Linked DNA regions of Homo sapiens. The protein of the gene in region 4 interacts with the protein of the main gene of each other region in a biochemical or structural test. Each region holds a gene or a part of one and is shown on either strand. Other genes may lie near its edges.

What was found.
Region 1: the proteins of TJP1 (region 4) and MYOZ3 interact in a test that uses a peptide from one of them, tested with the Homo sapiens proteins (one large-scale study listed by IntAct).
Region 2: the proteins of TJP1 (region 4) and SLCO1B1 interact in a test that uses a peptide from one of them, tested with the Homo sapiens proteins (one large-scale study listed by IntAct).
Region 3: the proteins of TJP1 (region 4) and SH2D3C interact in a test that uses a peptide from one of them, tested with the Homo sapiens proteins (one large-scale study listed by IntAct).
Region 5: the proteins of TJP1 (region 4) and RSBN1 interact in a test that uses a peptide from one of them, tested with the Homo sapiens proteins (one large-scale study listed by IntAct).
Region 6: the proteins of TJP1 (region 4) and TECPR2 interact in a test that uses a peptide from one of them, tested with the Homo sapiens proteins (one large-scale study listed by IntAct).
Region 7: the proteins of TJP1 (region 4) and CCDC134 interact in a test that uses a peptide from one of them, tested with the Homo sapiens proteins (one large-scale study listed by IntAct).

The regions. Positions count from the first base shown.
Region 1 is NC_000005.10:150,674,751-150,678,250, forward strand, and holds part of MYOZ3 (myozenin-3), read left to right. Parts: intron 1-1,956; coding exon 1,957-2,125; 3' UTR 2,126-3,500. UniProt on the Homo sapiens protein: Myozenins may serve as intracellular binding proteins involved in linking Z line proteins such as alpha-actinin, gamma-filamin, TCAP/telethonin, LDB3/ZASP and localizing calcineurin signaling to the sarcomere.
Region 2 is NC_000012.12:21,179,694-21,183,193, reverse strand, and holds part of SLCO1B1 (solute carrier organic anion transporter family member 1B1), read right to left. Parts: intron 1-3,500. UniProt on the Homo sapiens protein: Mediates the Na(+)-independent uptake of organic anions.
Region 3 is NC_000009.12:127,744,167-127,747,666, forward strand, and holds part of SH2D3C (SH2 domain-containing protein 3C), read right to left. Parts: intron 3,106-3,500; coding exon 2,981-3,105; intron 934-2,980; coding exon 398-933; intron 1-397. UniProt on the Homo sapiens protein: Acts as an adapter protein that mediates cell signaling pathways involved in cellular functions such as cell adhesion and migration, tissue organization, and the regulation of the immune response.
Region 4 is NC_000015.10:29,707,469-29,710,968, reverse strand, and holds part of TJP1 (tight junction protein 1), read left to right. Parts: coding exon 1-138; intron 139-1,932; coding exon 1,933-2,410; intron 2,411-3,500. UniProt on the Homo sapiens protein: TJP1, TJP2, and TJP3 are closely related scaffolding proteins that link tight junction (TJ) transmembrane proteins such as claudins, junctional adhesion molecules, and occludin to the actin cytoskeleton.
Region 5 is NC_000001.11:113,795,477-113,798,976, forward strand, and holds part of RSBN1 (lysine-specific demethylase 9), read right to left. Parts: intron 2,561-3,500; coding exon 1,887-2,560; intron 828-1,886; coding exon of another isoform or gene 825-827; exon of another isoform or gene 1-824. UniProt on the Homo sapiens protein: Histone demethylase that specifically demethylates dimethylated 'Lys-20' of histone H4 (H4K20me2), thereby modulating chromosome architecture.
Region 6 is NC_000014.9:102,432,441-102,435,940, reverse strand, and holds part of TECPR2 (tectonin beta-propeller repeat-containing protein 2), read right to left. Parts: intron 1,707-3,500; coding exon 730-1,706; intron 1-729. UniProt on the Homo sapiens protein: Probably plays a role as positive regulator of autophagy.
Region 7 is NC_000022.11:41,807,179-41,810,678, reverse strand, and holds part of CCDC134 (coiled-coil domain-containing protein 134 isoform 1 precursor), read right to left. Parts: intron 1,805-3,500; 5' UTR 1,789-1,804; coding exon 1,686-1,788; intron 801-1,685; coding exon 679-800; intron 473-678; coding exon 388-472; intron 1-387. UniProt on the Homo sapiens protein: Molecular adapter required to prevent protein hyperglycosylation of HSP90B1: during translation, associates with nascent HSP90B1 and the STT3A catalytic component of the OST-A complex and tethers them to a specialized translocon that forms a microenvironment for HSP90B1 folding.

The DNA.
Region 1 (3,500 bases), on a different chromosome or scaffold from region 4:
GCCTGTAATCCCACTTTGGGAGGCCGAGGGAGGCGGATCACTTGAGGTCAGAAGTTCAAGACCAGCCTGGCCAACATGATGAAATCTCATTTCTACTAAAAATACAAAAATTAGCTGGGCTTCTTGGCACACACTTGTAATCCCAGCTACTCAGGAGGCTGAGGTGGGAGAATCGCTTGAACCTGGGAGGCGGAGGTTGCAGTGTGCCGAGATCCTTCTACTACACTCTAGCCTGAGTGACAGAGCAAGACCCTGTCTCAAAACAAAACAAAACAAAACAACAAAAAAAAGTATTATTAAAATCACATACATAGGTTCTCTTTTAAAAAATGTTAGGCAAATAAATGTAGAGCCCCTTTGCTCACCATCCTCCAATCCCAGTTGCCTTCCCAAAGGTAACATGGTTGTCAGGCTGGCCTGAATGGGCTCAGAACATTTTGTGTGGGCAGCTGCATGCCTGTAGGGGGAATGGCGTTTGTGTGTGTGTGGGGGTGTGTGTGTTAATACTTTGCACTTCATTCTGTTAACTTGCTTTTTTTACTCAACATTACGCTTTCGAAATCTACCATACTAATACGTAGAGCTCTAGTTCCTTTTAAGCTGCTGTATAGTTTTCTTTTTCTTTTTTTTTCGCGGGGTGGAGCAGAGTTTTGCTTTTGTGGCCCAGGCTGCAGTGCAATGACACAATCTCAGCTCACTGCAACCTCTGCCTCTCAGGTTCAAGCAATTCTTCTGCCTCAGCCTCCCAGGTAGCTGGAATTACAGTCACCCACCACCATGCCCATCTAATTTTTGTGTTTTTACTAGCGACGGGGTTTCACCATGTGGGCCAGGCTGGTCTCGAACTCCTGACCTCAGGTGATCGGCCCTCCTCGGCCTCCCAAAGTGTTGGGATTATAGCCGTGAGCCACCGTGCCCAGCCTGCTGTATAGCTTTCTATCGTGTGAGCATGCTCTATCTGTCTTGCCCATTTCTCTGCTAGTGGACACGTGGGTTGTTTCTGGTTTGTCACTAATGTGCTGCTCAGGTCTGCATCCCAGTGCCTACGCGCCTGTGCTTTCCTAAGCCATATGCTCAGAGGTGAAGATGCGGGGTGACATAGTTCACACATTTCAGGTTAGAAAGATCCTGCCAAATTGTCTTCTGCGGTAGCAGCACTGGCTTACCCTCTAACCAGCAGCATGTGTGAAACTTTTCCCCCGCCATCTCACCAACTTTGCCCAGTTACCACATTATTTCATCGTGCCAGTGTCCTGGAGGAGAAATGGCATATCTGTTGTAATCTGCATTTCCCCCCTGATTTTCAGTGCTCTTTCTAATGCTCTCTTCTCTCTCTAGTTTTGGGCCTTTTGTCCTAAGGGGAGCTTACTGAAGGGGAGTCTAGAGTCTTGCCTAGGACAAGTCAATTCTGACTCCATCGGCTTCACTTCTATTGCTAAGCAACGAACCACCCAAGTAGGCGCAGACTTGGAAATGGGCAAAGTTGAAAAAAACCTCTTAAGATGTACAGAATTGCTGGGTGCGGTGGCTCACGCCTGTAATCCCAGCACTTTGGGAGGCCGAGATGGGCGGATCATGAGGTCAGGAGTTTGAGACTAGCCTGGCCAACATGGTGAAACCCCGTCTCTACTAAAAATACAAAAATTAGCCGGGCATGGTGGCACGTGCCTGTAATCCCAGCTACTCAGGAGGCTGAGGCAGGAGAATTGATTGAATCTGGGAGGCGGAGGTTGCAGTGAGCTGAGATCACCCCACTGCGCTCCAACCTGGGTGACAGAGCGAGACTCTGTCTCAAAAAAAAAAAAAAAAAAAAGATGTACAGAATCTTGCTGTATAGAAGGGAAAACTGAGGCTCAGAGAGCGGCAGGGAGGGGCCCATACATGGTGATCCACATGTCAGTGTACTGCTGTCCCTGTTCCACACAGCCCACCTCTCCTGCTGCTCTCTTTCTCCAGGACCCCGGTGCCATTTGGAGGACCCCTCGTGGGGGGCACTTTTCCCAGGCCAGGCACCCCCTTCATCCCGGAGCCCCTCAGTGGCTTGGAACTCCTCCGTCTCAGACCCAGCTTCAACAGAGTGGCCCAGGGCTGGGTCCGTAACCTCCCAGAGTCCGAGGAGCTGTAGCCCTAGCCTGAATCTTCAGTTCCCCAGTCTCGGGGGCCTGGTAACATCCGGAGCCAAGACTTGTGGACAGCACTTCACAGTTGAAGAAGGGCCTTCACACACAAAACCTGATTGCAAATGGCTTCAGAGGTCACCAAGTTCAGTCGTCCCAAAACATGGGTGTGTTTCAAAATTACCTGGGGATGTTGTTCCAAATCCAGACAACTGGACTGTCCCAGACTTGCAGCATCAGAGTCTCCTGAGTCGAGGAATCTGTATTATTAATAGCAACCAGGGCCGGGTGTCGTGGCTCACGCCTGTCATCCCAGCACTTTGGGAGGCCGAGGCAGGAGGATCACCTGAGGTCAGGAGTTTGAGACCAGTCTGGCCAAAATAGTGGAACCCCGTCGCTACTAAAAATACAAAAATGAGTCGGACATGGTGGTGCATGCCTGTAATCCCAGCTACTTGGGAGGCTGAGACAGGAGAATCACTTGAACTAGGAGGCAGAGGTTGCAGTGAGCCGAGATTGCGCCACTGCACCCCAGCCTGGACAACAGAGTGAGACTCCTTCTCAAAAGTAAATAAATAAATAGCAACCAGTACTCCAGGTGATTCCAGCATAACTTATCCATGGTTTGTGTCATTAGGAGTCCACATCCACACCTCTGCTCTTTCCTGTTCCTGTAGTGTACACTCCCCCGGTGACAGGGTGCTCACTGGCACCCCATCTTCCTGTGAATAACTCAAATAATTAGAAAATGTTCCTTTTACTGAGATGCAGTTGGTCTTCATCTATTCATGCTCTAAACAGTTCCTAAGCGCTGACTGTGCGCTAGACACTGCCAGGCCCGGGCCTCGAGGAGGAAAAGACAGTAGGGAAGACATTATAGAGCATGAAGTCACCATAATTTTCCCTAAAGCATGCTTATTGACAATTGAGGAACAAAGTGTTGTGGAGCAGAAGAAGGAGTCCCTCACCCTAGGTGTGAGATGGGATTCTGGAAGCTTCCTGAAGGATTTGAGTGGGACCTTGTGGGAGGCGTGAGAGTCCATGAAGGGGGTGTGAGGGGGAGGGTATTTCTGGAAAGTGGACCAGCATGTGCAAAAATATGGAACTGAGCACGGGTGCAGGGTGTTCTGCAGAAGGGAGAAGGCTGTGCTAGAGGAGCCAGTGAGGGCCAGCATGGGGTGGGCTTCACTAAGGAAATGGGGAAGGTTTTAGTGATGGGTCTTGCTGGGTGCTGTGTGGGGCGCATATTGGAGAAGGGTAATGCCAGAAGCCAGGAAGCCTGCAAGGGATGAGGCCATGGGAATGGAGAGAAGGGGCCACCCACTGGGCACCTAACAGGACAGGTGCAAAGTGGGGTGCTTATTAAGATTCCTTCTTTCCACT
Region 2 (3,500 bases), on a different chromosome or scaffold from region 4:
TAAATTGAGCTGTGATCCAGTAAATGGTGCTTAAGAGTAATGGCTGGCAGATAAGCTGTTACTCGGGGACATAACTCTTTTGTTTTTCAGTGTGTTTACAACAGTGCTTGTGGCAGCGGGCAAGAGAGATGACCCCCTTAACAGGCCTGTGCCTGGGCCATAGGGGACACCCCCCCAATCTCCCGCTCTGGTCACTGGTGCCACACTTGCATTTCTTTTGTTAGGAAACTGTTCTGAGCCATGGAGCTCCCTTAGGCAGAGGCAGCAGCTGGCAGACAGGACACAGCCTTCCTGGACTGGGCCTATGAAATGAGGCATGTCTCATTCTGCACTGGCCCATGAACCCGTGCATCTCACCCCTCTCAGTGTTCTGAGATTCAGAATTCTTCCTCTGCTTGAGTGCTGGGCACCAATCTCAGCTCACACTCCCAAGCTATGCACTGCAGCCCTGGGGTTTTGGGACTAGCCTGTGTCTCCACTGTCTGGCCCCTCTGGTTCAGGCAGTAGCTACACTGGGGGATCTGAAGTGCTCCAAGGATACTGAGGAAGTACTCAGGTGGGGGTCCTTGAAAAAACCCTCAGGCTGAGCAGTGGAGGCTGTGCTGTGCACATATTCTTGCAGGTGTGGCCAGGCAGGAGTACTGGGAGGGACTGGCGGGCAGAAGGGCCTACAATACAGATGTGTCCCAGCTCACAGGAAAGTTGGCCCCGCTGTCTCTTCGCTCAGAAGTCAGGTGAGTTGAGAGCTACTTGGTGGAAGAAAGAGAGCCTTGGATGTTGGGCGCCTATGGCTGCGTTCTGCTGCAGCTACCCAACATGCAAAACCCCCTGGGTTCAAGGCTGGCTGTAGTTCTATTTCTGCCTACTCTCTGGGCAGATGCCCCTGCCTGTTCCAATGTCTCTGGGGGTCGTGGGTTCTCTTGTAGGTAGGATCCCAGATGTCAACAGTGAGAGTAGGCTGTCCCACTGCCACTTTACTCACCCCTTAGCTAGGAGCCACTCAGGGCTGGAAACTATCTCTGGTGTTCAACAACCCTGCACTGGGTTTCCAGCTTTCTCTCTCTTCAGCCTCAGTGTCTGTGTCACCTCTCTATTGACTTTCAGTGTTTTCTCTCAAAAGATATGCTCGAAGTATGTTAGTTTATTCAATATTTTGGGCTTCCTCAGTGGAAGTGGTGCTTCCTGAGTGTGTCTAGTTGGCCATCTTGTACCCTCTAATAAGTTTAATTTCTTATAATAGATTTGTGTATATTTTATGGTAGTAAATGATAAAATAGTGGAGTATCTAAACATACTTTATGCACTCATGATATACCTTTTTCTTAGGGTTTCCTTTACTTCTACACTATGCAATTCATCTATAAATTTTCTCAAATTTTCACAAATCTCCCCAAATTTTTTCAATATATTTATTGAAAAAAGTCTGTGCATAAGTGGACGAGCATAATTTAAACCTATTGTTCATGGGTCCACTGTATGTTTCAAAACCTGTTAAGAAGGTAGATGTCATTTTAATTGTTCTTACCATAATAAAAGAAAAATAATAAGAAATAAAAAAGCATATGCATACAGAAACACACACCACAGAAGTTTGTGGCACGATTAAATGGTGCCATTACTCTAATCTATAAGAAAACTCACTAATATAAGATAACATTGACTTGATAACAAACTACCTAGAAATAATTATTTTCAAGTATGCACAGATCTGGGTTTAAATTTGATTTATATGATCATACCATGTCATAATCAACAACTCAGACTTCAGGAAATGATTGGTTAAATCAGTGACTCCATCTACATGCAAAGTATTTATTCATCACCTGTGACAAATGTAATTTTGATGACTTTTTTTTCTGTTCTTTCACTGTTCTACACATAGTAACTAAGGGTCATAATCGCGCTAGATAGGACGTGAGAAAAAGTTTTTCTTGGCTCACTCACAGTCTTAAAAATTGAAAAATTCTACACAAAAATTTTGGTGTTTGGATTTTCTTGGAAACCAATCAGAAGTCCTTGCCAATGCAGGGCCTAAATTTGTGCATTAAAAGAATAGGCCAGAGCTGAGGAACACAAGTGCTTTTGGATGCATGGGGAGAGCAGTTCACAACCAAAAGAATTCTCCTATTCTAACCATCACACCCTAAATTCCTGTTCCTGGCACTCTTTACTCATTTATTTTTATGTCTTCAGCTCCTTTAGGCATTGGAGTTTGCCAAAGTATACTTTGTAAGTGAAGCTCATACTCATCACTGAATAAGAGAAGATATAATGATATCTGAACATTCAATGTTAGAAATTGTATGGTGATGAATTCTCAAATAATGTAATAATTTCTTATTTAGAGAGCTTATAAAATAATTAACCTAAGGACATTTACCACGTATTTCTGTACTCTTCGTGATAAAGCAGTGATGAAACTGGAGTTGAATGAGTAGAAATAATGTACATAATGTGTAGCTACTCTAAGGCATATGTCTAAAATTGAACATGTAAAACATTTTATCAAGTATTTTCTTTATAGTTTTAGATTAGCAAACACTTTCAAGTTTTTGGCTGTTGCTGGCCCACTGTGATGTCTATCCCATCTTGGAAATGAATCCTTTGATCTCTTTGGAATGATCTATTGAAGGCCTAATGAGGTGGAAAATCATATTTATTTATTCACAAACTTAACTAATTATTATTTGCTAAGAACATGCCATTCTGTCATGTGGTAAAGAGATGGCAAGTAAGCACACAAATATTAATAGCTCATTGTGAGAAGGGTTACAATAAAGGCATGCTCTTGGCTATTAATTTGAGACTAATGGAAAGTGGTGAAGTAAGGCTTCTCTAAGAGGATCCACATTTTGGAAGAGGCTTCAAGAACTATGCAAATGAAAAAGAGGGAAAAGTTTTACCAAGTGTAAATGCAGAGAAATGTGAGATTACAGGGCACAGTAACTCAGTCAATAATTGAATAAGGTATGGATATTCATCAAAAGGAGGAATATAGGGAATACAGTGGGGTTGGAGGTAAGGTGATGAGATCAGATTTTGACATATTGTGCTTTAGGTACTAATAAGATATCTAAGGAGGGAAAATGGATGAAGAAGCACTGGAAATATCAATTAACGCAAATGATAGAAATATACCCATTTACAAATCTATAGTAAAGTAGGTAGAAATTGATTGTGTTTCACTAATAACAGAAGCAGATTATACTGGATTTAGAAGTGGATGGGAGGTGAGAAGGTGAGATATCTTAGCTAATTTAGCTGATATTTTCCTAGGTGCTTGGTTCTAAAGAGGAATAAAAAAAGGATTCAGCTGGAAAGTTGTGTGGGGGTATAAAAAACTGTATCTACATATAAAGATGGGAAATACTTGGGTGTGTTTGCTGAATAAAAGAGAAGATGGAGATAAAGAAGCGGGAAGGGAGAATCTAAGCTCCAGCTAGATCTATCAACATTGGATACAGATGTATATATTTTCCACTGAGCTGCAAAAAAGAAAA
Region 3 (3,500 bases), on a different chromosome or scaffold from region 4:
TTCAAGTGATTCTCCTGCCTCAGCCTTCCAAGTAGCTGGGATTACAGGCGCCCACCACGACGCCTAGCTAATTTTTGTATTTTTAGTAGAGACGGGGTTTCGCCATGTTGCCCAGGCTGGTCTTGAACTCCTGACCTCAGGTGATCCGCCCGCCTCGGCCTCCCAAAGTGCTGGGATTCAGGTGTGAGCTACCACCCCCGGCCTTTTTAAAAGGAGAAACTGGAGGCCCAGTGAGGCTAAATGACCAGCCCAGAGTCACAGAGCAGGCAAAGGACAGCCATGGAGCTAGAATCCAGGCCCACCTGCTGTACTTGGGGAATCTGGGAGCCAGCTTCTCACTGCCCTGCCCCACAGAACAGAGATGCTCCCTCCACCCCAGTGCACAGCCAGCACCTACCAGGCAGTCCACCTTGGTGACATGCCGGGCCAGCGTCCGGGCATCCACTTCTGCCAGCAGCTCCTTGACCTTGCGCAGAAGGCCCACCTCCAGTGGCCGGTTATCCCTGGGGATCAGTAGTGACTGGAAGGTGGCCGGGTTGAAGGAAGAAGTGACTTCCACGATGGGGACTGTGAAGGTCTTGCCCCAGTCCCCTTCAGGGGCCCCATTTTCTGACAGTTCCTTTAGCCTCTCCCCATAGCTCCTGGCCTGCTGGCTGGAGGTCTCAGTCGCTGCCCACTCTCGGCTGCCACGCACGGGAGGCTGGAGCTGGCAGTAGTGGCCAGAGTCCGGGTCACTGTAGCTGCTGAGTGATGGTGACGGGGAGGCCTTGCCAAGGGTGTGGGAGGGGCTGGTGTGGGGGCCCTTGTCTGACTCCCCATGGGTCTTTGGGGCACTTCCGGGACACAGCTGGGGCTCACTGGAACGGCGGGCGACAGGGGAGGCAGGCAATGCTGTGGCAGAAGGGGCTGCAGGGGCGGCATGGACACGGGTTACTGCAGAAAGGTAGAGAGAGAGGCCCCGTTATAGCAGCTCCCCACCAAAGTGAGATTCCCGCACCCCTTCCCAAAGAACAGGCTCCCTCACTCCTTGTAGGGAGTACAGAGGTGATGTCCCCACCTCCCTGCATCACCAGAGACCAGGGCCGATTGACTCTGGCAAGCTGACCAGCCCAGGTGATGCTCTGAAATCACCAGGACCCAGGAGTTTGCATGGCCCCACCCTGAGGCTGCTGCAGCCTTGGGGACCCACTGCTTGGAGGAGCTTCAGTGATCCGGGGAAGCTGAGTACCTGCTGGAGTTTCTTGTGCCACATGTGATTGTTTCTCGACGAATTAGCAATAATGATTTCCTTTTTTTTTTTTTTTTTTTTTTTTTTGAGTCACTGTCTCGCTCTGTGGCCCAGGCTGGAGTGCAGTGGTGCCATCTAGGCTCACTGCAACCTCCACCTCCTGGGTTCAAGCAATTCTTCAATTCTTGAGCCTCAGCCTCCCGAGTAGCTGGGATTACAGTCATGTGCCACAACGCCTGGCTAACTTTTTTTTGAGTCAGAGTCTCGCTCTGTTGCCTAGGCTGGAGTGCAATGGCATGATCTCAGCTCACTGCAACCCCCGCCTCCCAGGTTCAAGCAATTCTTGTGCCTCAGCCTCCTGAGTAGCTGGGATTACAGATGTGCCCCACCATGCCCGGCCTGAATTAGCAATAATGATTTGTTGCTAAACCTTGTGTGCTAGGAGCTGGCAACATGCTGGAGACATAATGACAGTAAAACCATCATCAAACCTCAAAGGCGATATTTACTAAGCTCTTAGTGCCTGCAAGACCCTTCTTTGTACCTCAGTCTATTTAATCCTTTCAATGTCCTATGAAGTAAGTACTTTTATAATCCTCATTCTACAGATGAGAAAAGTGAAGCTCAGAGAGGTGCACTAACCTGCCCAAGGTCACCCAGCCAGCAAGTGGTACAGCTGAGATTTAAGTCTTGACATCTGGGCTGCTTTACTATACCAGATTGCTTAGAAACTGTCCAATAAGTCATTCTGGCAAGGAATTTTAGGTTTTATACTCAGGGTATTGCTTTGAAATCAAGTTTGTAGTTATGACAAAGTTGGTGGCTCTGTGTTTAGGGAAGGATTTGTGACAACCGATACAGACAGCAACACTTCAATGGAATGCCACCCTAGGCGAAAGTTCCTCCTGAGTCAGCCCCCTCTCGTGACACTTGGCCTGCCACGTGGACAATACGGCCTGTTGAAAACATTCTTTTTATTTTTTTTCCAGAAATGATCTATTGGAATGTTTCTAACAGAGAAACTTTCTTCGTATTTATAAGAAAGCACAGTGTTCCGTACTTTCCACTTAATTTTGCTGCAAACCTAAAACTGCTCTAAAAAATAAAGTCTATTAAGAAAAATAGAGGCCAGGTGCAGTGGCTCATGCCTGTAATCCCAGCACTTTGGGAGGCTGAGGCGGGTGGATCACCTGAGGTCAGGAGTTCGAGACCACCCTGGCCAACATGGTGAAACCCCATCTCTACTAAAAATACAAAAATTAGCTAGGCATGGTGGCACACGCCTGTAATCCCAGCACTGTGGGAGGCCAAGGCAGGTGGATCACCTGAGGTCAGGAGTTCGAGACCACTCTGGCCAACATGACGAAACACCGTCTCTACTAAAAATACAAAAATTAGCCAGGCGTGGTGGCAGGGGTCTGTAATCCCAGCTACTTGGGAGGCTGAAGCAAGAGAATCGCTTGAACCCAGGAGGCGGAGGTTGCAGTGAGCCAAGATCCCACCACTGCACTCCAGCCCACAAGAGCAAAACTGTCACAAAAACAAATAAATAGTTGCTAAATAAACAAACCATGGATACATCTTATATGTTGATATCAACAGTTCTGTTAGCAGGATTCCAGTGTCAGTTCTTTCTCTTGGTAAAGGTCGCGCCTCATAAAAGAGGCGGAAACACACATAACCACACATAGGTGACAGAAGTCTTCAACAACAGATTCCCTCCACCTGCTCCACCCCCTCTGCTGGCCATACCAGTGCTGTAGGCAGGGGAGCTAGGGCTCTCGGAGATGGGCGACATGGGTGAGTGCAGGTCTGGGATCTGGTCCATGCTGAGGGCACAGCTGCGGATGGAGTCCCGAGGGCGGGGCAGCGACGTACTGTGGAGCAGACACCATCATGGGCAGGGAGCCCGGAGGTCAGGGGCCTCAGCCTGCCTCTGGGACCCCCCACCTCTGCACCTTGAACTTCAGAGGCAGAGAAGGCTTGGAGATTATCAAATCCAACCTCCCGACTGACAGGTACCAAAAAAACTGAAGCCCAGATGAGGGAGGGGGCACAGCGAGTCAGGAGCAGAGCTAGGAACCCTGGTGGCTAGAACGCCTGGTTTCTTTTTTTCTTTTTTTGTCTTTTTTCTTTTCTTTTTTGTTTTTTTTTTCGGAGATGGAGTCTCACTCTGTCGCCCAGACTGCAGTGCAGTGGCGTGATTTCAGCTCACTGCAACTGCTGAACCTGCCTCCCGAGTTCAAGACATTCTCCTGCTTCAGCCTCCGAG
Region 4 (3,500 bases):
GATCATTTGGCGAGAAACGCTATGAACCCATCCAGGCCACTCCCCCTCCTCCTCCATTGCCCTCGCAGTATGCCCAGCCATCTCAGCCTGTCACCAGCGCGTCTCTCCACATACATTCTAAGGGAGCACATGGTGAAGGTAGGAAGTTCGGAAGTAGACATTTTAACACAGTAATGCTTATGAAGTAAAATTCTGGTGGTTTCTAGGCAAAATGGTTTTTACATTAAAAAATACATGCTTGAAACCTTTGGGCTGGGAACAGTAAAAACTAAGAATTTTGTTAAAAGTATGTCTCCTGTTTTTACAAGACCATTATTTTGGACAAGCCTTTTAGCTAAACAGATTTTAATCTATTTTATGCTAGTCTCTAAATCTTCTGGAAGTAGTGTTTGCCAGTATATGTAAAGATGGTTTGTAAAACCTACTATGTTTTATCTCACACACCCAAATAGAAAAGCCATAATGTTTCATATAAAATGTATCCCATACACCTTGACTTTTGCATTTACATACCAGGTAGATCACATATAGCTCCAGATTATTCATCTTAAGAGCTTTGTAACATTTTACCCTCAGCATATAACACAAAGTGGTTATCTCTTCTGCTGTGGACAGGCATTTTCCTAGCACAGACTTCTCTTATTATTCCCTTAGGAGGCACCTCCTTGGGCTTGTGAGTCTTCAAGCAGATGTGTTATAGTTCTGGATTGAGGCTATCTTTTATTAAGATTTTTTTTCACACATGCCCATGTTTACAGATAAAGACAGTTTTAATTCTTACTTTCCAGTCCTTATGCCTTTTCTCTTTTTTTTTTTCCTCTTTTTGAGACGAAGCCTTGCTCTCGCCCAGGCTACAGTGCAGTGGCGCAGTCTCAGCTCACTGCAACCTCTGCCTCTCGGGTTCAGGTGATTCTCCTGCCTCAGCCTCCTGAGTAGCTGGGACTATAGGCGCACACCACCACGCCCGGCTAATTTTTGTATTTTTTGTAGAGACAGGGTTTCATCATGTTAGCCAGGCTGGTCACGAACTCCTGACCTCAGGTGATCCGCCCACCTCGGCCTCTCAAGAGTGCTGGGATTACAGGCATGAGCCACCGCACCTAGCCTTCTTTCTTTTCTTGCTGATTGCACTGGCCAGGACCTCCAATAAACTCTGAAATGTAAGTGGTGAAATTGGACCTCTTTTGCTAGTTCCTGATTTTAAGGAGGAAGGACCTCATGTTTTATCCTTTAGAATGTTAGCTCTAGGATTTTCGTAGATGTCCTTTATCATGTTTAAGACATTCCCTATATTCAGAGTTTGCTGAAAGCAGTCAGATGTTTTTCCTGCATGTATTAAGATGACCATATGATTTTTCTTCTCGTACTGTGGAAAATTATATTACTATATTCATGAGGTATTTGGATTAATAATTCTCCTGTCTTGTAGTGTCCTTAATTATTTCACAGAGTTCAGTTGGTACTGTGTTACACTGTGGCTGGCAGTGCATAAAAAATCCTGTGGTTCCACTTTTTAACCAATGTTTGGCATCATCAGACTTTTCGGTTTTTCCATTCTAGTGGGTGTGAAATAGTATTTAATGCTTTTTGTTGGTTTTGTTTTACATTTTTCTAATTAATAGTGAGTATCCTTATTATATGATTATTGGGCATTCTAGTTTTCACAAAGACTAGTGCCAATCTTTGGAGGCCAGGAATCTTAGCAGCTGGACCCTGACTCCAGGGCAGCAGGGTATATATATTCATGGCACCACCTGTCCATGCTGCCCTCATCCCTCAGCATCACACCTAGCCTCCAGGGCTCAAGAGTCAGGCTCTGGCTGTGCGACCCACATTTGGGCCTCGACTCCAGCACCAGGACAAGTTAAGCTGGGACAGGGCTATTATAACTTTTTTCAGAAAGTTATTTAAATGCTTACGTTTGTTTTTCAGGTAATTCAGTGTCATTGGATTTTCAGAATTCCTTAGTGTCCAAACCAGACCCACCTCCATCTCAGAATAAGCCAGCAACTTTCAGACCACCAAACCGAGAAGATACTGCTCAGGCAGCTTTCTATCCCCAGAAAAGTTTTCCAGATAAAGCCCCAGTTAATGGAACTGAACAGACTCAGAAAACAGTCACTCCAGCATACAATCGATTCACACCAAAACCATATACAAGTTCTGCCCGACCATTTGAACGCAAGTTTGAAAGTCCTAAATTCAATCACAATCTTCTGCCAAGTGAAACTGCACATAAACCTGACTTGTCTTCAAAAACTCCCACTTCTCCAAAAACTCTTGTGAAATCGCACAGTTTGGCACAGCCTCCTGAGTTTGACAGTGGAGTTGAAACTTTCTCTATCCATGCAGAGAAGCCTAAATATCAAATAAATAATATCAGCACAGTGCCTAAAGCTATTCCTGTGAGGTAAGACTTATGCCTTTGCTCAAAGCATTGGCCCTGTGATTTTTCTCATGTGAGTTTGTTGTAGTTTATTTGACTTGGGACTTTAAAGTGATCTTTTTAACTCAACCTTTAAACTGAAGAGTGTTGTTGCAATGAATGCTGTTACATAGAAGGTCCTCCAGGAGGTACAAGATGTTGGTAAAATAATAAAGCTAACAGTCGTGTATGGTTGGTAGGTATTGTCATCATCCCTGTTTTACTAAGAACTGAGGTTGAGTGACAGTAAGCAGTTTGCCCAGGGTCACAGCTAGAGTGAGGTGAGCCTCAATTTAGCTGCTGGTCATCCGACCTCTGAGCCCATGCTTTTTTTTTTTTTTTTTTTTGAGACAAGAGTCTCCCTCTGTCGCCCAGGCTGGAGTGCAGTGGTGCGATCTTGGTTCACTGCAACCTCCACCCCCTGGGTTCAGGCAATTCTCCTGCCTCAGCCTCCTAAGTAGCTGGGACTACAGGTGTGTGCCACCACGCCTGGCTAAATTTTTTGTATTTTTAGTAGAGGTTTTCACCATGTTGGCCAGACTGGTTTTGAACTTCTGATCTCAAGTGATCCATCCGCCTCCACCTCCCAAAGTGTTAGGATTACAGGCGTGAGCCACTGCACCCAGCCAGGAGCCCATACTCTTAACCAGCCATGACCTTTTGTAACCTCCTGACCTACTGGTAAGGTGCATGTGGAGGACATCTAAAAACATTAAGTATCTATGTTCCTCATTCATTATTTGTTCCACAATGATGCTAAGAAGAAAAATAGAATAACCTCTGACTGTTTAAAGAGCAGCAGTTAGTGAGATGGCTGAGCAAATGAGACAAAGTGAGCCCACCTGGAGCCTCCCTGCAGCTCCTCTTTCCTGTCTTTCATTCCACGGCGATTGACCAGATGGATTCTGGCCATACATAAAAGCTCATCTCAGCCTCCTACAGCCAGTTCCATTTTCACGCCACCATAAAGCAGAAGCACTTGCAGGCAGGGAGAACCAAAGGTCAGGATGGCCACCTGAGTCTGCTTTCCAAGAGAAAGGATGGTTATGGCGGTCACTGCCTTCCTAGCTCTGCA
Region 5 (3,500 bases), on a different chromosome or scaffold from region 4:
TAGTCGGCTAATCCAACCTCCCATATCCACACCATACTCTTCTCTAATGACTGAAAATTCATAAATAAAATTAAGTTCCAGGACCACCAGAGCACAGGACTCATTCAACAGTCCTCAATATTCTTATGTGGTTGAAGCGTTTAATATCTAATTTAATCATAATCTGAAATGTTCTTAAAAAGTGGTTATTTTTTAAATCTCAAAGTAAGTATCAAGGTAAGTTGTTGGTACAGTCATTTAAATTTCAGCTCCATTTTAAAAAATTAATTGGAGGACAAAAATCAGCAGGGAATATTTCAAGATATTTTCTTTTATTAACTATTTAGACTGGATACTGTCTGTTGACATACAAATTTGATCCACTTTAACTAATATGAATGTTAAAAAGACACCCTTACAAAACTGGGACAGTTTTCCCCCAAATTTCTGGCTTATTTCTCAGAAATGCTTGTTGGTCTATCAAAAGAGAAAATTTGCTGCATTTTTCTAAACTAAAAAAATGATAGAGCATGTTGATTCTGCTCTCAGCAATATCTTTCCTTGTTAAATAGGGAACTTATGGGGATTATGGACTATATTAGGAGAAATGTTTTCAGTCTCATCTGCAATATTTATAAAAATAGGATTCCTTGACCTTCAAAGGGCAAAACTTAAAAAAAAAATGAAAATGAAAAAAGAAAATCTACTACAAAAGTCAGCACTTCGGTACCTGGTTGTGGTAATAAGGCCAAAATCCAAGACGAAGCCCTTTATTGCACATGGTGTTCCAACATCTTGGGCAGCCCCATCTTGCGACCTCTCCACATTGGCTGCTCCTGCTCTCTCTACTGCAGAGAGAACTTCAATTAGAGAAATTCTGAAGCTCATAAATCTAAACTGGATACTCCCCTCATTGGAGGCAAAGATGGTAAGACTCACTAAAAAGATTCAAGTTAGAGGAGGTTTCAAATAAATCTAAGTGGCTTGAAACCACTATAATTCAGGCAGCTGAGAGTCTTATTACGGCAACAATCTATTTACCTAAAAAAATATATATATATTAAGGGAAAAGAATGGCAGCAAATTACTAGACAACCTGAAAAAACAGAACATATAATCATAAAAGTTTAAAAAGTGAAAGTCTCCACTAAAGTTGAATTTATAATATATACTGCAGAAACTTATAGCTGACCATTTATATTCAATTCTTACGAGAAAAGCAAGTAAGAAAAAAACTAGGACACATTATTAACTTCTTATTCCCTAAAATAACTTCACTGAAAAAAATGTTTGGTTAAAACCACTGGTTAAGAAGCAGACGTTTCCCTGCTGACTTAAGCCTAGCTGCCCATGCAAGGCTTCAAAAAATGTCTTCACCTACAACAATGTATAGGCAGAAGGAGCAGAGGCTATGGCGGTCTTCCTAATGACACTTCCAAGTCACATAAATGGGGTATATTTCTGGGATGGACTGCCAACAAGTTACTGAAAGAGATATAAAAACTCCAAAAACCTGGCATATAAACAGGCCCATGCCCTCACGTGTTTTATTATGATATAAAAGCAAATCTTAACTAAAGTTATCCTGAGACTAACAGATCTCAATCACATCCTCCATACTAACATTACCCGATTTGTGAAAGACCAGGTAAGTTTTCAAGCTAGTTTTCCATAAAGATTTGTAATGATGTATAACATGTATAAAGCATTCCCTCCAGTAAAGAAGAAGCCCCACCCGAACTCAGTAATTAAGATTTTTCAATTAGAGGAAGAGACAAACAATTTGAAGCACCTTTATTACCATAAATTTGTTATCAAAAATGTGCTGGTATGTGCTGTGCGACAGAAAGAGGTTAATTCTGTTTAGAATCGTATTTACTAATTTTTAACAACAATTTTTATCTTACCTGAGTGTGAAAATTTGAAATGGTGGTTGTTTCAATATCTTTCTTGCCCAGAATTTCCATTTTCACTGGAGTGTTGGGGAAATTAAAAGCAAAGTAGTCCAAGAAGTCTGGGAGATAAGCAGCCGCTCCATGCACTATTGCTAAAGCATAGTAAGCAGCATTTTTCTCATTTTCACTGAATGTCAAAGCAAGAAACTCCTCAGAAAATCTCTCCATCTCCATTGGAGACAAAAATGAGAGTTCATCCATGTAAGCATGAAGGACAAGAGCACCACCATTGGACTGGTGTTCCTCATGAATAAAGTTGCTAAATTTAGTACCTGTTTTTAAGAAATTTCTACGAATAGAATGTTCCTGGTGAGTCATAAAAGGTGTTTGTACTCCCTGGGGTACCCGATATTCTTGCATACCCAAATTTAATCGGCACAGCTGTTCATCTTTCAGATACCTGAAGGACTCCTTATTAAGTCCTGAAGTGCTATTTATTTGTCCTTGGGTGAGAATTTCTTTACTGATGCGGGTCAGGCCAGCACAGACGGTTTGTACTTCCTTATTGTACATTTTAAGGCGTCTTCCTCGCATGTCTTCTCGGTGTTTCTTTTTCTTTTTCTTCTTTATTTTCTTCAAGACAAAATCATCGGCTCTCTGGGTTTTACCATTTTCATCTGGTGTTTCTGGCCACAATAATTAAAAAGAAGTTAGTTGCTAGGACTAGTGTCAACATACAAGCTTCTTAAGGTACTTGATCTCATTAAATAGCCTATCCTCAATTTCTCTGAATTTGCTATTACAACTTACGTGTTTAGAAAACAAATGAGACAGAGATCTTAAATATAATAATATTCTGGATTGAAGAAAAGAATAAAATTGAAGGTATCCATTTTTCAAAGCAGTATATTACTGATAATGGAGAAAAATCAGAAATAATTCACACATCCAAAAAACAGAGAATGGTTAAATAAATCATGATATAGCAATGGTATGAAACATTATACGATAGCTAAATATGATGATTCTGAAATCTATGTAACAACATAGATTCTTTTGTTCAGTTATCATCATAAAATTTAAATTTAAGCTAGGCATATTTTGCTGTCAGCCTATGAATTACTATGATACATACAGGTAAATCAACAAAGGCAAAGTAAGCCATGAGATATCATTTTTTCCTATCAAGTTGGCAAAGTCTGCGGTTTCTGGTCATTCTCAACTACTACTGCTGGAAGTATAAACTGGTACAACTTTCTGAAGGGCAATTTCATGATACATGTTAAAAGTCTTAAAAAATATTTCTAATCCTCAGACCCAGAAATTCCACTTCCAAGTAAAAGTTATCTAAGAAAATAATTGAAGATTATATAAAGATATCCATTACAGTATTATTTAAAACGACACAACAGGGAATGCTCCTAAATGTCTAATAACAGGGGACTGATTAAACTCTGGTAGTTACATATTATAAAACACTACTCAGCCATTGTAAAGTATATTATAGATGAAAAAACTGACATAAAAATTAGAAGGTTACAAAATGCTTAGACTCATTCTTTCAGAAAGCCTTTTCTTCCCCACCCAATCTGGATAGCTACTCCTGCTATGGGCTCCCTTAAGCTT
Region 6 (3,500 bases), on a different chromosome or scaffold from region 4:
CTCACATCGACAGTTAGTAGGAGACAGGGCAAGACACAGTTTTGAAACAAATATATCTAGTAATAATTACTTGCTAAGGGAAGTAGGCACTTTTAAAAAAATCACTTTTAATATAAAATGCTCAAGGACAGTTAAAAGTCATCTCCTAGTTACATGTGCTGGGTGGACCTACAAAGACTGGTTACTCCAAACTGGTTCCTGTACAGCTCGCAGGGGAGCCTTGGAGCCACTGTTCGGAGGTTGAGGAGACAGCAGTTCTGGAAATGGCCTCGTGCTCTTGCAGATGGTTCCTTGGAGGGGTGTGAGGAGAAGGACAGGAGACTCCCTGCCTCCAAACTGCTCAGAGCTTTCTCTACTCCACAGGTGGACAGTCCTCTGCCCACTGGTTTTCTGAGATGGCCCCAGGCCAATTCAGCCCTGCCCTACGATGGCTAACAGTAAGTGCCTACACCAGCCTGCACTTGTGGGGTCAGAGGAAACAGCAAGACGCTACCTTGGTTGGGGAGGCAGGTTACTGAGCAGGGTAGAACAGGTCAGAAGTAGTTCAAGCCATTCATAGTCCCTGTGCTGGAAATCCCCTGAAACCCAGACTTGAAAACAGAGTTGGCCTACGGATTTTGCAGTAGGAATAGAATTTCTTTCCATGAGAAGGAAAATAATCAGTCTTGACAATTATTACCCTTAAGAAAGAAGCCTCAGCTACTTTTCCCACCACCCGAACCCACATACCTGATCTGGCTTGAGCAGCCCGGCGTCCTCTGCACCCAGCCGGCTCAGGTCCTGCTGGGAGCAACTAGGTCCGAGCTCTGTCACACTCGTCTCTGAGGATGAAGAAGGAAGCCCGTGGGCATAGATGTCCTCCTCATCGCTGGACGTCAATGTCTGATCCCGTGGAGGCTGCTCAAGCCAGGGCTTGTGAGTGCTGGCTGCCAAGGCAGAGACCGGAGTCAGCTGTCCTCCCACACTCCCCAAGACACGTTCAGAAATGGGTATTTCTTTCTGACCTGTGTCATCATCAGTGACAGCATGCCAGAGATTTGTGCTGAGGTGGCCAGAGGCCTCCATGCTGGTTAGGATGTCCTGCTCTTGGCTGGGCTCCACGGGGCTGCCTTCATCAGCTCTGGTCCCAGGCAGCCACTGTTCAGCACTTGGGGCCCAGCTGAGGCTGGAAGGCACAGTGAGTGAGTTCAGGAGGGGGACTTCACAAAAAGTGCTTTGGGGGCCAATGGGTTGGATGTCTTCCCCATCATGCGCCCCAGGAGAGCTGTCCTGTTCTTGGAAGGGTAACTGTGTGCTATTTGGTCCATCATCTGCAGGACACGGCTCATCTCCGAGTCCCGTGACATCACTGCCTCCCACATCTTCCCTCGCTCCATTGAGCAGCTCCCGCCCATGTGCATGGTGACAGTGTGGCATTTCAGTTCTAATGTCATCTTCCTCAGCCAGAGAATCAGGCATTGATCCTGACACCTCCAGGACATTAAACGTTTCGGGGTCAGTATTTTCCTGTGGGACACCGTTCACTTCACCATTGAAGCTGCTTTCCTGGTCTGGAGACTCTGCACTTAACTGATCCACGCTACTGCCCAGGACACTTGAGGTCATCGACAGCAAGTCTGTGTTCAAGGACTGGGGACTGTCCCCAGGAAATTCGGAGCAGGGTGTCGATTCCAGGGAGCTGTGACAGGTGCTCCTGCTTCCACCTTCTAATTCAGAATAAGAACATTCAAAATAAGGCACGGTTCTATATGATTAGTAAGAGACTAACTTGCACACATATTTTTGGCTCAAGAAAAAAAATTTTAAATAAAGGATATTTGGTGAATGAAGAATAAACCTCTTAAGTACAAATAATCCCAACAAAGAGATGCTTTCTATGCATGCAAGTACTGAACAAATCCATGGGTTTGAGGGCAGCTAAGAAAAACCAGGGGACAAACTGAGATGTTCACCTGGGTCACAAACCAATTCCTTATAATTATTAAAATGCTTAGAAATCTAATAACATTTCCTTCAGTGTTGCAGTCATCTTAGCTAGAGAGGATTAACAGGAACCAAGGAGTAAAAGGTTTGAAAAATTCAGTGTTACACAGCCATAACAAAGAATGAAATCTGGGCTGTGCACGGTGGTTCACGCTCATAAGCCATCCTAGCACTTTGGGAGGCCGAGGCGGGTGGGCCACCTTAGGTCAGGAGTTCAAGACCAGCCTGTCCAACATGGTAAACCCCTGCCTCTACTAAAAATACAAAAACTTAGCTGGGCGTGGTAGTGGGCACCTGTAATCCCAGCTACTCGGGAGGCTGAGGCAGGAGAATTGCTTGAACTTGGGAGGCGGAAGTTGCAGTGAGCCGAGATCGCACCATTGCACTCTAGCCTGGGTGACAACAGTGAAACTCTGTCTCCAATAAATTAAAAAATAAATAAATAAATAAATAAATAAATAAAAATAAAGAATGAAATCTTGTCCTTTACAGCAACATGGATGGAACCGCTGGCCGTAATCCTAAGCAAATTAATGCAACAGGAACAGAAAACCAACAGCATGTTCTGACTTGTAAGTGGGAGCCAAACACTGAGCACGCATGGACATAAACATGGGAAGGACAGACACTGTGGACCTCCAGAGCGGGAGAGGAGGCGGCATGGGTCAAAAGCCACCTACTGCATACTGTGCTCACTACCTGGGTGCTGTATACCCATGTAACAAACCTGCGCATGGACCCCCTGTATTTAAAATAAAAGTTGAAAAAAAAAAAGAAAAAAATTCAATGTTAAATCCCATATTTGGTAGCATATTCAACACTAAACATAAAATGTCCCAAGTATTTACCAGCATAGATCTTCTGGTTTCCACAACTTTCCACCCAGGCTCACAGAATCTCTGATTTAATCAATGGTATACATGGATAAACCAACACTTTTTTTTTTTTTTTTTTTGAGACGGAGTCTTGCTCTGTTGCGAGGCTGGAGTGCAGTGGCGTGACCTCGGCTCACTGCATCCTCTGCCTCCCAGGTTCAAGTGATTCTCCTGCCTCAGCCTCCCGAGTGACTGAGATTACAGGCACATGCCACCAAGCCCAGCTAATTTATGTGTTTTTAGTAGAGACGGGGTTTCACCATGTTGGCCAGGATGGTCTCAATCTCTTGACCTCGTGATCCGCCTGCCTCGGCCTCCCAAAGTGTTGGGATTACAGGCATGAGCCACTGCGCCCGGCCCCGACATTTTAATTTAAATACTAAAAACTATGCCAGGCGCGGTGGCTCACGCTGTAATCCCAGCACTTTGGGAGGCCGAGGCGGGCAGATCACCTGAGTTTGGGAGTTCAAGACCAGCCTGACCAACATGGAGAAACCCTGTATCTACTAAAAATACAAAATTCGCTGGGCATGCATACTCGGGAGGCTGAGGCAGGAGAATTGCTTGAACTCAGGAGGTGAGGTTGCAGTGAGCCGAGATCGTGCCATTGCACTCCAGCCTGGGCGACGAGCGAAACTCTGT
Region 7 (3,500 bases), on a different chromosome or scaffold from region 4:
ATTAAGAATACAAAAACTAGCTGGGTGTGGCGGCATGTGCCTGTAGTCCCAGCTACTTGGGAGGCTGAGGCAGGAGAATCACTTGTACGCGGGAAGTGGAGGTTGCAGTGAGCCGAGATCACACCACTGTACTCCAGCCTGGCGACAGAGTGAGACTCTGTCTCAAAAAAAAAAAAAAAAAAAAAAAAAGAAATGCTATTGCTAAAAAGTAGCCAGTTAATTAGGGAGGCCACTCACGAAACGCCCATCTGCCCAAGGGGACCACTTAGAAGGTGCCACAAGAGGGCACTTCCGGGGAGAAAAAAAGAGTGACAAGAACAGGAGAGAAGGAGCAGCTAGAGAAGATCGGGTGGTGCGGAGGACAGGGCGGGGCAGGGCAGACCATACCATCCTTCAGCTTCTCGTCCTGGGGGAAGGGCCCATCTGGGAGCACATCAGCAGCGGTGAGCACTGTCCGGGAGTCCTCCAGCACCTGAGGGAATCCCGCCAGGGCTGAGTGGCTTCGCAGTGCCCATCACAGACTGCTCCCATCCCCATTTATTTAAACCCCACTTCAAGTCTTACGTGTGCGCAGTTCCCCTGTCCCTGAACACCAACCCGTTAGGGAACTCCTGTTTACCCATCAGTGCCTAGATCAAAGACTGGACCTGCCATGAGCTGCCCCCTGCCTGCACACACCTTAAAGAGCCCCTTGAGCATGACATCAAGGATCTTGTACTGCTGGTGGATGTCGTTCAGCTGTGCCAGGTTCTTCAGTGCCAACAGCTGCTCCCGCCGCTTCACCTCAAACATCTTCTTGTCTGGGCAGAATTAAGTTAAGGGGCTGGCATCAATAGCCCTGCCTGGACAATCCAGCAGTCTTGCCTCAGAAGGCTCATTCCTGACCAGCAAGTATCTGCAAGGGCCATGGACACCCAGGGCTAGAAGCCTCCAGGAAATGAACAAACTGACAAGTGCATGGACCTGCAACGCACTATTCATCCAGTTCCCATGGCGCTCCACACCCAGAAGCCTGAAACCAAGCCTCCAGACCTGGCTCCTGCCTTCCCTTTGCTGTGGTCTTCCTGCCGTCTCCACAAGCATTCTACTGTTCCAGAGCCTCCACCTCTCTGCTCGCGCTGCACCCTCTCTGCCCAGGATGCCCCTCACCCTCCTCTAGGAGTTTCTTTCCTTTCAAGGCCTGGCTCAAAAACCATCACACAGTGTTTCTCCCTGACCCCTCCTGTGCCCATCAGAGCACTGGTCACAGAGTAACATGATCATTTGTTTGGATACTTTCTCCCCCTGGGCTTATGGACACCTCAAAGCCAGGGGACTTGTTGTAATTCATCTTCGTGTCCTTGAGGCCTGGCCTGGAGCAGGTGGCCCAGTTCACCAGGGTCCAGATGGGCCAGTAATCCAGAATTCCTGAGTCTCCACCCAGGATCTTGCCCACAAGGTGCCAGGCCATGCACAGTCCTCACTGAGCCTTTGCAGTCTAGAGATGGGCCTTGTCATCTCCATTTACCATACGCGGAAGCTGAAGCTCCGGAGAGACCTGACTTGCTCAAGGTCTGGCTAGAGCACCTCACCTTTTCTCCCTGTTCCCGCCAGCTGGGCCTGCTTATCCCTGGAATCCCTGAGTAGAAGAACCTCATTTATAGACCTCTCAAAGACAGCTCATTAACTACAACCCCAAAGGATACAGATCTCCAGGCTTGGGTCCAGGGAGGTCCTCAAGGTGCCTGTGGCTCCCATCCCAGACAAAAGCAGGACAAAGAGGAAGGCCAGGAATTGAAGAAGGTCCATATCCAAACCTCTTGAGCTGGAAGAATAACCCAAAGAAAGAGAGTGAGACTCAGAGATCGGTGTTACATAAAATAGAGTGCACAGGTGAACAGCAGCTTCCCCCGACATAGTGCAGCCTCTGTATACCAAGAACCCAGCTTTGGGGAGCCCTGAAGCTGCAGCTCTTATCCCAGGGCCAGCAGGCACACAATACAGAGCCGTGGGATGCTAGGAGGTGGGGAGAAAGATAAGTGTGTGTAACACAGGAACACTTAGAGCACAGGGTCAGTGGCTAGAGCTCTAGGCTGGAGCCCTGCCCCCGCCCGTCTCTGGGACCTCGAGCAGCTTGCCCAGCCTTTCTGAGCCTCAGCCTTCTCAGCTGTAGAACAGGGATAAGGAGGTCACCTCCCTGCTGCAGGGAGGGAGGTCTGGGTGAGGCACTGTGCCTGGGGAGGAGGGGCTCGTCAACAGTATTCCTTCCACATCCCCTATCCTGGTCTCCCAGGAAAGCATCTGGTCAAGGAAGCCCAGGCAGAGAAGATATGAAACTTCTGGAGTTTTCCTCCTTCCTTGACTTTTGTCATCAGAAAGTAAGAAGGGACAAAGGGCAGGGAGGAAGGCAGGGCAGTCTCGGGGTAAGGGGGCTTGCTACTCACTCACTTTGGAACCATAGGTACTACATAGAATACCTGTTCATATTCAGGCAACATGCAACAATTATTTATTTATTTTAATTTAATTTTTTTTTTTTAAGATGGAGTTTCACTCTTGTTGCTCAGGCTGGAGTGGAATGGCGCAATCTCGGCTCACTGCAACCTCCACCTCCCGGGTTCAAGCGATTCTCCTGCCTCGGCCTCCTGAGTAGCTGGGATTACACGCATGCGCCACCATGCCCAGCTAATTCTGTATTTTCAGTAGAGACGGGGTTTCTCCATATTGGCCAGGCTGGTCTCGAACTCCCAACCTCAGGTGATCCGCCTGCCTTGTCCTCCCAAAGTGCTGGGATTCAGATGTGAGCCACCGCGCCCGGCCCTTTTTATTTATTTTTTCCTTAGTAGAGATGAGGTCTTGCTATATTGCCCAGGCTGGTCTCCAACTCCTGAGCTCAAGAGATCCTCTCGCCCCAGCCTCCCAAATACTGGGATTACAGGCGTGAGCCACTATGCCCAGCCAACACAATTATTTATTGAGCACTGTGAAGTTCACTTTCCTGGTGATTCCCAGGACATACATTGCTGCCTTCCACCCTTCCTCTTTCTCCCCTTGAAAGGATGCATCTTTTCACTTGGCTGGGGTGGTAATTCTCTTAAATGTTTTTTGTTAGTTCCTGTAATTTTTTTTTTTTTTTTTGAGACAGGGTCCTGCTCTGCTGCCCAGGCTGGAGTGCAGTGGCACAGTCATGGCTCATTGCAGCCTCCACTTCCCAGGCTCAAGCCATCCTCCCACCTCAGCCTCCTGAATAGCTGGCACTACAGGTGCATGCCGCCATGCACGGCTATTTTTTGTATTTTTCTTAGACGTGGGTTTTGCTACATTGCCCAGGCTAGTCTTGAACTCCTGGGCTCAAGTGATCCACCCATCTTGGCCTCCCAAAGTACTGGGATACAGGTGTGAGTCACTGCACCCGGCTACTATAGCTTTTTTCTCTGGTTCTAACTCTGCTGTTACGGCCTGACACTCAAATATTCTGTCTTGAGGGCCTAGAAAAACAATGTTTTCCTCTAGTATAACTT